Regions from separate parts of the Homo sapiens genome. Here region 2 is linked to region 1. The links come from fine-mapping of genetic effects on gene expression. A gene starts in region 1. The other region holds a variant in brackets. All regions are shown on one strand. Distances are from middle to middle.

Region 1 (5,382 bases):
AACTAGGTGAAGGGTATTTGAGATCTTTCTGAATTATTTCTTACAACTGCATGTAAATCTACCATTATCTTAAAATAAAACTTTTTAAAAAATGAGTATGAGATTATGCTCTCATCCCTATTTAATAAACAGAGAAAATAAAGCATGAAGGTAATCATCACTTAAGTTTCTATAAGACCTGGTAGGATGTCTAGATTAGGACTCACCCAAATGGGAGTTCTCAATTCAGAAATCAAGATTGGAACTAATACAAAATACAAGGATGACTAACATTTACACTAATGAAAAACCTGTCAGAGAATTCCAGCAGCCCCATATACAGTTGCCTGCAACTGCATAAGAGATCTTAAGCAAGTTCAATAGAATCAACTCAATAGAACCAATTGAGAATAATTGCTTGCTTTAAGCCACTAGGTTTTCGGATGGTTTGTTATGCAGTAATTAGGATTCTACACCAAGCAAGGGAGTGAGTGGTTGTAGCCAAATAGATGAACTTTTAAATCCCAGTGAGTCTATTTATTTTAAATGCTAGAATTTATGTTTGTCTCAGACTATCCCTTGAAACTCATTTTCCAGAATACTCTGTAAGCATGTTGGAAGTAATGATGGGAGTTGGGTAATGCACGCACAAGAGAAATTGAACAACCAGTCCTTGCCCTTGAAGAACTCACAATCTAGTAAGACAAAACATCACTGCATTAAACGGCATGAGAACAGTTATAAGGCAACAAATCAGCAAGTTCAAACCGATATACAACAGCACAAATTGAATGCATGTGGCAGTGTATGGCTACCCAGGCAGCAGGACGGAGCTAGACATTTTGGGCCCTGAAGGCAACATTACAGAAAGGGCCCCCTTTCCTTTGTTAACAGTGAAATAAACATCACCAGCAATGCAGGGGCTAGCTGGATACTATTAACACTTCTGAAAAAGCAAAAGGAGGTAACGTTCAGGGACAATTATTCTTGTTTTAATTTTTCTTTGTTTTCTGTTCCTGATAAGTGGTTTGTTTGTTTGTTTGTTTGTTTTTTTGACAAGCCACAGTTTCTCTGAACATCAATTTCCTCATCTACAGACTGGAGATAACAACCAGAGAGTAGTGGGTTGAAAGTCAGGGAATCTGGATTGGAATCTCAAATTTGTCATTTACTAGCTGTGTGACCTTAGATACATCATCCTCTTCCCCCAATTCAGTTTCCTCTTCTGTGAAATGATGAAGTTAAGCTGAATGGTTCAGAAGTTCCCCACCAACTCTAACACTTGAGACCTCAGGTAGTTCGGTTGGTTTTGAGGGTTTAAAAAGTAATGTTGATGTATGTGAAAACACTCCGTAAGCCATAAAGTACTATACAGATGTTAGGAATATAGATATTTATCTAGTTCATCTAGAAAAAAGCTCTGCGGTTCTTCTCCAAATTTAGGGGCTTAAAATTTTGTCTGTCGAGGCAGCACTTTCCTGGACCCTAGAAGTTTCTGACAATTCTTTGCAACTATCACTTGTTGAATAAACACAAATTTGGAGTAGGCAGGCCCACCAAGGCATCAGCAGTGCTACTGTGATTTCCAGGTTGAGCTCTTGGCCCAACTTAGAAGCTTAGGGACTCATTTAAAAAAAAAATGGTGGGTATAGTGTGTGGCACCAAGTTTTCTTCAAGACACTTAACAGTTAGAACAGGCCCTTTCCATGAGGCTTGGGAGCCCAGTTTGTAAGAGAAAGTGGATTTCTAATCCCTGACCCTACACACACCCATCTCCACCCCGCCTTTAAGGACACCAAACCAAAGCTTTGTCACTCTGTTAGCCACAGTGTGGATATGGGAAACGCCGTGAAATGATAAGCAGCATGCTAGGGCGTGATTTGCGAGGAGGGTTCATTCTGTGTCCAGGGCACCAGCTCAGTACCAGACCAGGTGCACACCTCGGAAAGGCCTTGGTGCCGGAGGAGAGCGGGTGTGGGCTTCCAGGCAGGGGAGTCAGAGGGTAGTCGGTATCTTCAGGGCGTGCGCGAGTGGTGGGGAGCTCCTAGGTGCATCCAGTGCAGAGGGGGAGGAGGGACCGGAGGAGCTGTGCGGTCCCTTTAAGACCCCAACGCTCGCCTAGCCAAAGGAGTGGGGGCTGCAGTGGGGGCGCTGTGTGATGGGAAAGTAGCCGGCTGAGTCTCACACTTTCTCCCGATTTTTAAACTTTCGGGCCGGGGGAGCAGAAATAAAGCCATTGTGCCGGGGTGGAGAAAGTGTGCGTGCTTGCAGCGGCTGCGTGCTTGCGGACTTCCCGCCAGCGCCGAGCGGCCGGCTTCTCGGGCCAAGTGGGGAGCGAGCGGGAGGGCGGGCAGGTGGCCCCGGGCCGCCGCGCCCGCGCCTTGGCTCTGCCCCCGGGAGCCGAGCAAGCCGCTGCTCCCTCGTGGTGTGAGGGCGGTGATGTTTTTCCTCCCACCCACTTTTGAGTTCCCCCTCCCCCCTCGCGCGCACTCTAGCTCTCGCCACAACCTGCCAGCCCCAGACCTCGGACGAGAGCGCCCCGGGGAGCTCGGAGCGCGTGCACGCGTGGCAGACGGAGAAGGCCAGTGCCCAGGTTAGTGAGCAGTGCCCGGCGCCCGCTTCCCTCACCTCCTTTTCCAGCCTTTGCACAGGTGGGTTGCCTTCTCTTGGCCGGAGCCGTCCCTGGAAGTTTCCCCAGGGTGCCCCAAATTCCCCTGCCACCCCAACCTGTTCTGTGCTCCAGCAGTTAGCAACCTGGATGGAGGTGGGGCCCAAGGCTTCTGACCAAAGCAAGTTGGGGGTCTCTGAATTCGAACTCACAGCTCGTCCCTCCCCACTCGGCCTGCATTTCTTTATGCTCTGGCGCTTTGAGAGGTCACTTAGGTACTCCACCCTGAGCTACCCAAGGGACTCTGCAGTCCCCTTAATCACTGCCTGTATTCCTGAGCCTGTTTTCTCATTTTGCTGATGAATACATGGTAAAGTTAATGTAGCAGGGTAGATGGGCGAAAGGCTCCCTATCCTATCCTCTGGCCATCTGCCTCATTTTTTGTCCCTGACTACGGGGGTCAGAATTTGAGACACTAGGCTCTGGAAGCAACGTGGTATATTGCCAGAACATAGGGCCCGGAAAGCCTGCTTTCCAGTCCCTCCCAGCCCTGCCACTAAAGTTATTTGAGTTCTCTGGGTCCCCCCAGTGCCCATTTTGAAGGTGGAGTTGTGTGGAATGAAATGAAATGATAGAAAGGTGTTTTGCAAGCCAAATGCGAGGCATTGTTTGTCAGTCATAAGCAGCAATGAAAGCATTTCCTCCAACAAGAGATACCCTGGGTTAAAACTGCCATTTTCAGTGGCAACACACCACCAGTTAACTGAACTTTTCTTGCTGGGTGGTAGAGTGGGGAGAGGATTTCAGCTGATGGACAAGGGCCTGGGACTCCAGTGTCTTTCTTATTGTTTGTCGGAAAGAAAATTGCTACCCTAGGGGCTGTCCCACAGATGATAGTCAATGTGAGATTACAAGGTCAGTCAAGCCTCTCAGGAGGATTAAAGAGACACTGTGGGGCGTGAAGAACTGGCTGACATGTGTTCATCCCTTAGCCTTCCTGTGGGGATGTCTCTTTGCTTCTGTTCTACCCAGGAGACCTGTTCTGAAAGTGGGCTCCTGACACTTGATGGCCCAGATTGCCTTGCAGTCACAGCTGGGCAAGGAGCAGTTGGTCCCTTTGCTTAACGCAGATGAACAATGTGAATGCTTGTTTCATGGAAGCACCTTAATAAATACCTTTCTTTTGGTACTTGATACATTTCTCTTTCTCTTGTAAAACACAGGAACTCTCCCATCCCACCTCCACTACCTGTGTTAGTTGCAGGGTTTTGTTTTTTTGTTGTTGTTGTTGCTTTCTTGTTGGGTCCTGGATCCCCTGAAGCATGTCAATGGCTACATGTCTAAGTAACCTGTAAAAGAGCCAGTGCAAGTTCAATGGCACAACAGCCTGTGTGAAGCAGACAGAGAGTTAATGCAGAAATAACTCCAGTTAACTGGGTCAAAGTATAATTTGAAAAATTAAGGACAGTTTGGCTCTTTGCAAGAATAAGAGTCGGCTAAGTTCGCTGAGCAATGCTTGCTAGTGTTTACTGCTGCAGTCCCAACACATGTTTTGAACCACCCCCTTCCCTAAAAGAAAAAGCTGAAGAGATAAAGAGAAATTGAACAGTGAGGAGATCTGGGGAGGGAACTCTTCTTGGTTCATATTTCTGCACAGAATACAAAGGCAGGACTTCAGGATCTTGTAAATCAAAAGTGAATATTTATAAAGCGATTCATTTTCTGATGTTCTCCATCACAGCCTGGGAGGCCACACAGATGACAGGAACGCCAAAGGAGATTAATTGCTCTCTAGTTACCAACTTTTTTATTTGCTCATAATATTAGTTGGGACCTAAGAAAGGCAAAAAAATCTATGAGCTGTTTTCTTGCCAACTTGAGTTATGAAGCAATGCTACAGTTCACCGAATCGCCCAACCATTATACAAGAAAAGCAGCCCTGTTGATTCTCGCATGGGGAGACCCTAAAACCATGGTTTCAGAAACACCCGTTGAAATCCATATATGAATGTGATAAATTGGATTTCAGTGGTTAAAAATCTTTCTCTTTTGGAGGCTTGGGGAATAAACTTATTAGAATAGGCTCAGGAAGAACCTCACTGAGGTGGGTAGCTGTGTTAAATTGTTAATGAAAATGATTTGTTTCGAATAAACGTGGTAGCCCTCAAGGGACAGTAACATTCTGAGTGATTGTAAGTGGGCCACAAACTCACAGAGGGGACCAAGACATCAGAACTCAGGTCTTTAGATGGGTAGGAACATGTCCTGAGAGAATTTGGTTCTTTAAGGAGCAGGGAGGAGGTAAAGAAGGAAGGCAGACGGTGCTGCAAATCTTGTTTGATAGCACAGATTACTCTATCATCAGTTCTTCCTTGGTTATGCATTCATAATTGAAACAGTGGATTTTGAATGACCCAGGCAACTTCATAGCATTTAAGTAGGAGCTGTAGCATCTACTTCAGAGCCCAAAGATATTCAACTCTCCAAAATGATCGTTTTGCATTCCTTCAAGTTCTTTATGTGCAATATTTAGGTTGGACTTTCTGGAAAGATCAATGAGTTCATTTCCCATTCAGATTGAATCTGGTGTTTTTAGAACATTTCAATATTTTCAGATCACCCATTGGAGGAATTTTGCAAACTCTAACATCTGTGGAAATGATCCGTGACTAGATGTGAGCTACAGCAAACTTTCTGTGTTCCAAGGTTCAAAAGGTTTAAGATTTCTACCCCTTATACTGGGAATGCCAATCTCATGTTTTGAAGAACTGTAGTTGTTTTAATGGTCTTTTGCA
Region 2 (5,382 bases), 67 kb after region 1:
ATTCTCACCAGCACTGTATAAGGGTTCCAATTTCTCCACCTACTTGCTAACCCTTGTTATTATTGTCTTTTTTATTATAGCCATCCTAGTGGATGTGAAATGGTATCTCATTGTAGGATTCCCCCCAATAGCGCCTTTCTCTTTACTGGGGAATAGTTCCAGTCTTGTGTATTCATCACTGTGAAGATATTAAACCTCTGGGAAAGATAGGGCCCTTCTCTAACTAATGATTGAATCTGGGGGCATATCAGGCATTCTGGCAGGGTGGAGAGGAAGAGAGTTTAGGGACATGGTGAACTTGCCACCTTTGGAAGCTCTACCATCGCAGAAGCAATCTGCTCTATTGATTGCTTTCCCTTCCCACAAAGAGACCATCAAGTGCAGAAGTAATCAAGTGAAGTTTTCTTGAAAAGGCAAGACAAGAGCTGGGCAACGAAGGGTGGGAGGCCAAAGGATGTATGAAGGGGGAAATGGAGAGGCTTCCTAAACTAAAAAATATTAAATCCTTTCTGAAAAGCACCTTCAGTAGTGACCTAAAACAAAGATGAAAGTCAAACCAATCAACAATTACTTTTGTTTAGCAATTCTGGAAAACATGTTGCAGGAGAGGACACTGGAAATGATGGTTAAAATACGGTGGGAGCCATGGCAGTTCAAGCCTGTAATCCTAGCACCTCAGGAGGCTGAGGCAAGAAGATCAGTTGATCCCAGGACTTTGAGGCTGCAGTGAGCCATGATCACACCACTGCACTCCAGCCTGGGCAACAGAGTGAGACCCCAACTCTAAAAATAATAATAATAAAATAAAATACAATGGGAGTGTTGGCCAAGGAGTTCACTTTTTCTCTCTATTCCATGCCCTTTAGGACTACTCATAATCACAAATACATTTGTGACCCTTCTGAGCGTAAATCCACCTGTCTGGGGTGCTCAATAAGTCCAAAGTAGAGTCTATGTGCTTGGTAAATGGCTCTGGCTAGAAAGCAACTGCTTGGCTAAATCACACCTGACGGTCTTCCCACTGAGATGGGAAAATGGGGCAGATAGTGTTTGCCCAGGAGCTGGGGCATAAAAGGATTCTTAGTGGATGTGATGGCTCAGAAGTGAATCTCTAGTTACCACTTGGGATCTGACAGTTTTTGAGAAGTTCTACAGGGCTGTGAAAGACTGCACAGGGGTAAAAACAAACCTTGTCATTACATTACAGGTGTTGAGAATTTCTAAAATTTACAGTATATAATACTGATTGAAAAGTAAATGTCACTGCTACTTTGGAGTTCAGCATAAGCCTTATACAGAGGCAGGGTCTGCCAGTGTGGTAAGAGGATGGCCACTGTAAGGGTTAAGTAGCCCCACATCTCTTTCCCTACCAGCCTGCTTTCTGCCCTCCAGAAACCCTATCATTTATAGCTAGTAGTAAAAGAACAACAATTGCATTTATTGGGCATTAATATGTTCCTGGTACTATGCTGAACAGATTATGTCTTACCTTGTTTGATCATCCCAACAACCTATGGGGTAGGTACCATTATCATCCCAATTTTATAGATGGAGAAACTGAGACTCAGAGATGCTAAGAATTTGCTCAGCTAATAAGCAATAATTAGCAATGGAGCTTTAATTTGAATCCAAATGGGACACTCTGAAGTAAGGCTTCTCCTCTCCCTAGGACAGGTCTTGGAAGCTGCATTTTTAGCAAGTTCCCTCATTCAGGTCTTAAGTTCTAGAAAGTTTCACACTCTTTACCCGGTGCTCTACAGCCTCATTATGAATAAAACATCAAAGGCCTATGTTACAATATAATTATCTAGAAAAGGACCCTGTTTTAAAACATTATCTACCATTTTCATTTCAGTATGAATTACTTAACGGGATTAGTATTAAGGCCTGCCAGCATGACCTCAATGTGATGGGCCACAGGAGAGTTAAGTTCTTATGGGGGAGGAGAGTTTGGGGAAAATCTAGAAATCGTTGGACTCTACCCGAGGAAAGCAGATCTAGTTAAGTCATCACATCAAGAGGCCCAGGGGAAAAAGAAGTGATGGCAGTTGAAGTGCTGAAAAAAAAAAAGAAATCTAAAGGTAGGCATCATTGATTCAACTGATGGGCCCATTTGAAGCAGTACCTCTGATCTCAGGGAGCATCCCAAGGAAAATGTCGTCTGAATCCACATAGCCTCAGAATATGAGCATTGTTACTTTTTGGAGGTGGGGGGAGGCTGCAGACACCCACTCTTCTTTGTTTTTGTTTTTGTTTTGAGATAGAGATTTGCTCTTGTTGCCCAGGCTGGAGTGCAGTGGCGCAAGCTCAGCTCACTGCAACTTCCACCTCCCAGGTTCAAGCGATTCTCCTGCCTCAGCCTCCAGAGTAGCTGGGATAACAGGCTCCCGCCACCACGCCTGGCTAATTTTTTGTAGAAACGGGGTTTCACCATGTTGACTAGGCTGGACTTGGACTCCTGACCTCAGGTGATCCACTGC[C/G]GTCGCCTCCCAAAGTGCTGGGATTAGAGGTGTGAGCCACTGTGCCCAGCCCACTGTTTTTGATACATTCATCCTGCAAGATGTGTTGCATCCTGGATGTATGCTCTTACTTTGCCTGACTGAGATGCAGCTAGCTCCCAGCTGCTCCTCCCTCCATTACAGCAGTGCTCTGGTAGAAGGCCATGGGTGATTTCCCACTAGCAACCTTATTTGTCTATGTTCCTTCCATTTGGGCCAAGGACTAAAAGCCAGCTCAGATTTACACAATTACTTTAACATTGTTTAAGAAAGCAATGTAACAACCTCCACTTTGCCCAGATGGACGGGCTCAATGATGTCGGTGGAGAGAACCCATTATTGGAATAAGACTGGGAACACAAAGTCATAGCTAGGATCTCTCCCACTAGTAGGAATACAGCCGGGCTTCTGATGACCAGCTTTGTAGGATTGATTTTCTATGGTTGGAATGGACCCAAAATGTTCACCTAGTCTAGTCTACGGCCTTCAAGTAGAAGTTTTTTCAAACGTAGTCTTCAAATTTAATGAGGAATACATTTATATCATTCAAGAATATGAATGCATATGTATATGTACATGTATATATGATTATATATCTAGGTATACATATAAAAGAATGCAATAGAATATCTTATTCACCCCGTCCCACACTCACCCAATTCTTATCTTCTCCCTACAACATGTAGTTCCCCCCCATAACTTTTAGTGGTTATATATCTTTCCAGATTTTTATGAAAATGTAAGCAAATATGAATATATATATATATTTTAAAAATATTTTTTCATTTACATAAAAGGTAGTCTATTGTGCACATCATTTTACCCCTTGTTTTCATCATTTAATAATATATCTTTCTGTATTAGTGCACAGAGAACTTATTCTTTTATAGAACTACATAATATTTTGTTATAATAATGAGCCATCATTTATTTAACCAGATTTCTATCAATGGACATAGAAGTTGTTTCCATATTCAGCCATTACAAACAATGCTGCAATGAATAATTTTTATATGTTTCACACATGTGCAAGTATATCTGTAGAATGAATTCTTAAAAATAGGATTGTTGGGTCAAATATATATGTATTTTTAAATGAACAGATATTGCTAAATTGCCCTTCATCATGTTTTAATCAAGTCTTCACAGACTTACCAAGAGAGTGTTTTATTCAAACTTTTGGATTTTTCTAAATCTGCTAAGAAAAATGGTATTTCATTGCAGTTTTAATTTATATTTCTCTAATGAATGAGGTTGATTTTTTCATGTCTAAGGGCCACTTGTAGTTCCATTTCTGTCAACTGTCTATTTATATCCTTTTTCCATTTTTACCATTGGGTTATGAATCTGTTTCTTGTCAATTTATAGAAGCTCTTTATATATTAGGGACAAATAGGATTTTAATCCCCAAACAGCAAATATGTGAAGAGATTCTATTCCAGTGTTTTACAGTGTCTTATGGCAGCAAACTCTTTCTTCAAATGAAATTTAAAAAAGCTAATAAAAACACATTTCACTAACAAAGTAAGAGGTATTCTGTTGAAGTAGAAATGGGGAAGGGATTTTTTTTTTCACATCCCTCAAGTACCTCTGAAGAATCCTAAAGCAGCACAGAACCTAGTTTGAAAATAATTTCCCTACATGCCTAGTTGGCCTGTGGTTCCAGTTTCTAATAACTCTTTCAGCAAGGAATCTTTTTTAGTATCTAACCTGAATCCTTATTGATGCAGTTGATACTCCTCCCCACTTAACATTGGCAATTTGTGATTATTTGACCTCTCTTCCATTATGAACCTTTATGTGTTATTTAAATACATTATCATTTAACACCTTTTTGTGCCTTCCCCTCCAATGAAAGCAGGATTTTACTTGAAGTCAGGGGAATGTCCTATTTATCTTTGTAGCTTTAAGGTAACATAATGCCAGGTATTGTCAATGTATAGTCAAGGATCTATTAGTGCCAGGTATAGTCAAAGACCTCCACAAGTGCTTGTTGAATGAATAAGAAAACAAGAGAGAAATAGTGTTTTGACTCATGTCTCCATAGCACCTACCATACACATCAGTGCAAAGCAAATGCCTTTCAGTTAGTTATCATCTATGGAAATTGGGAAAATTCCTTCATATTCTTCAACTTTACTGCTTTCCTCTCTGTGACCTCTTTCTAGAGCAAGATCATCTACCATTTATTGTGAATGTTATGTACCAGATACCTTTGGGCTTTTTAAAATTAATTATCGCTGAACCTCACAGCCACGTAAAGTAGAAGGCATACTCAAGCCTTCCTAAGATCACAGAACCAAGACATGCCAAAGCTGGTGTCTTAGTCTGTTTGAACTGGTATAACAAAACACCACAAACTGAGTAGCTTATAAACAACAGAAATTTATTTCTCACAGTTCTGGAAGGTGGAAATCCAAGATCAAGGTACCATCAGATTTGTTCTCTGGTGAGGGCTTGGCTTCTGGTTCAGTGATGATACCTTCTCCCTGTGAGCCTATATAGTAGAAGGGGCGAACAAGCTCCCACAGGCCTCTTCTATTAAAAGCACTAATCTCATTCATGAGGATGTTGCCCTTATAACTTAATCACCTCCCAAAGGCCCCATCTCCTAAAAGCCATCACCTTGGGGGTTACGATTTCAACATATGAATTTCAGAGGCACACAAATATTCAGATCATAGCAGCTGGGACCCCAGAGACCAATGTTTGCAGACCCCAGAGACCAGGCTCAGTTATCTTCTCTTGCATCACTGTGAGATACGCACATAGAAACAGCATCCTATTCTAGGGGTTTCTTTCAAGGCCTTTTTGTCATTCTCTCTTCCCATATATTTCTGAGACTTGGGGTAAAGCCCTTTAGATGATGTAGTTTTACTTTGTT

The links. PIP is the estimated chance that this variant, and not a neighbour inherited with it, causes the effect.
Region 2: its variant is the best candidate, but not a certain one, in a credible set for the expression of CHRDL1 in sun-exposed skin (GTEx, PIP 0.56).

Annotation. Positions count from the first base shown.
Region 1 is chrX:110,792,934-110,798,315 of GRCh38, reverse strand. It overlaps CHRDL1 (chordin like 1), which reads left to right and starts at 2,499. Exons shown (of 12, transcript NM_001143981.2): 1 at 2,499-2,572.
Region 2 is chrX:110,726,003-110,731,384 of GRCh38, reverse strand. All of the region lies in intron 4 of CHRDL1 (chordin like 1), which reads left to right. Among named protein-coding and RNA genes, the nearest start is that of CHRDL1, 67 kb to the left of the region's middle. The variant C/G (reference allele first, on the strand shown) is at 2,481.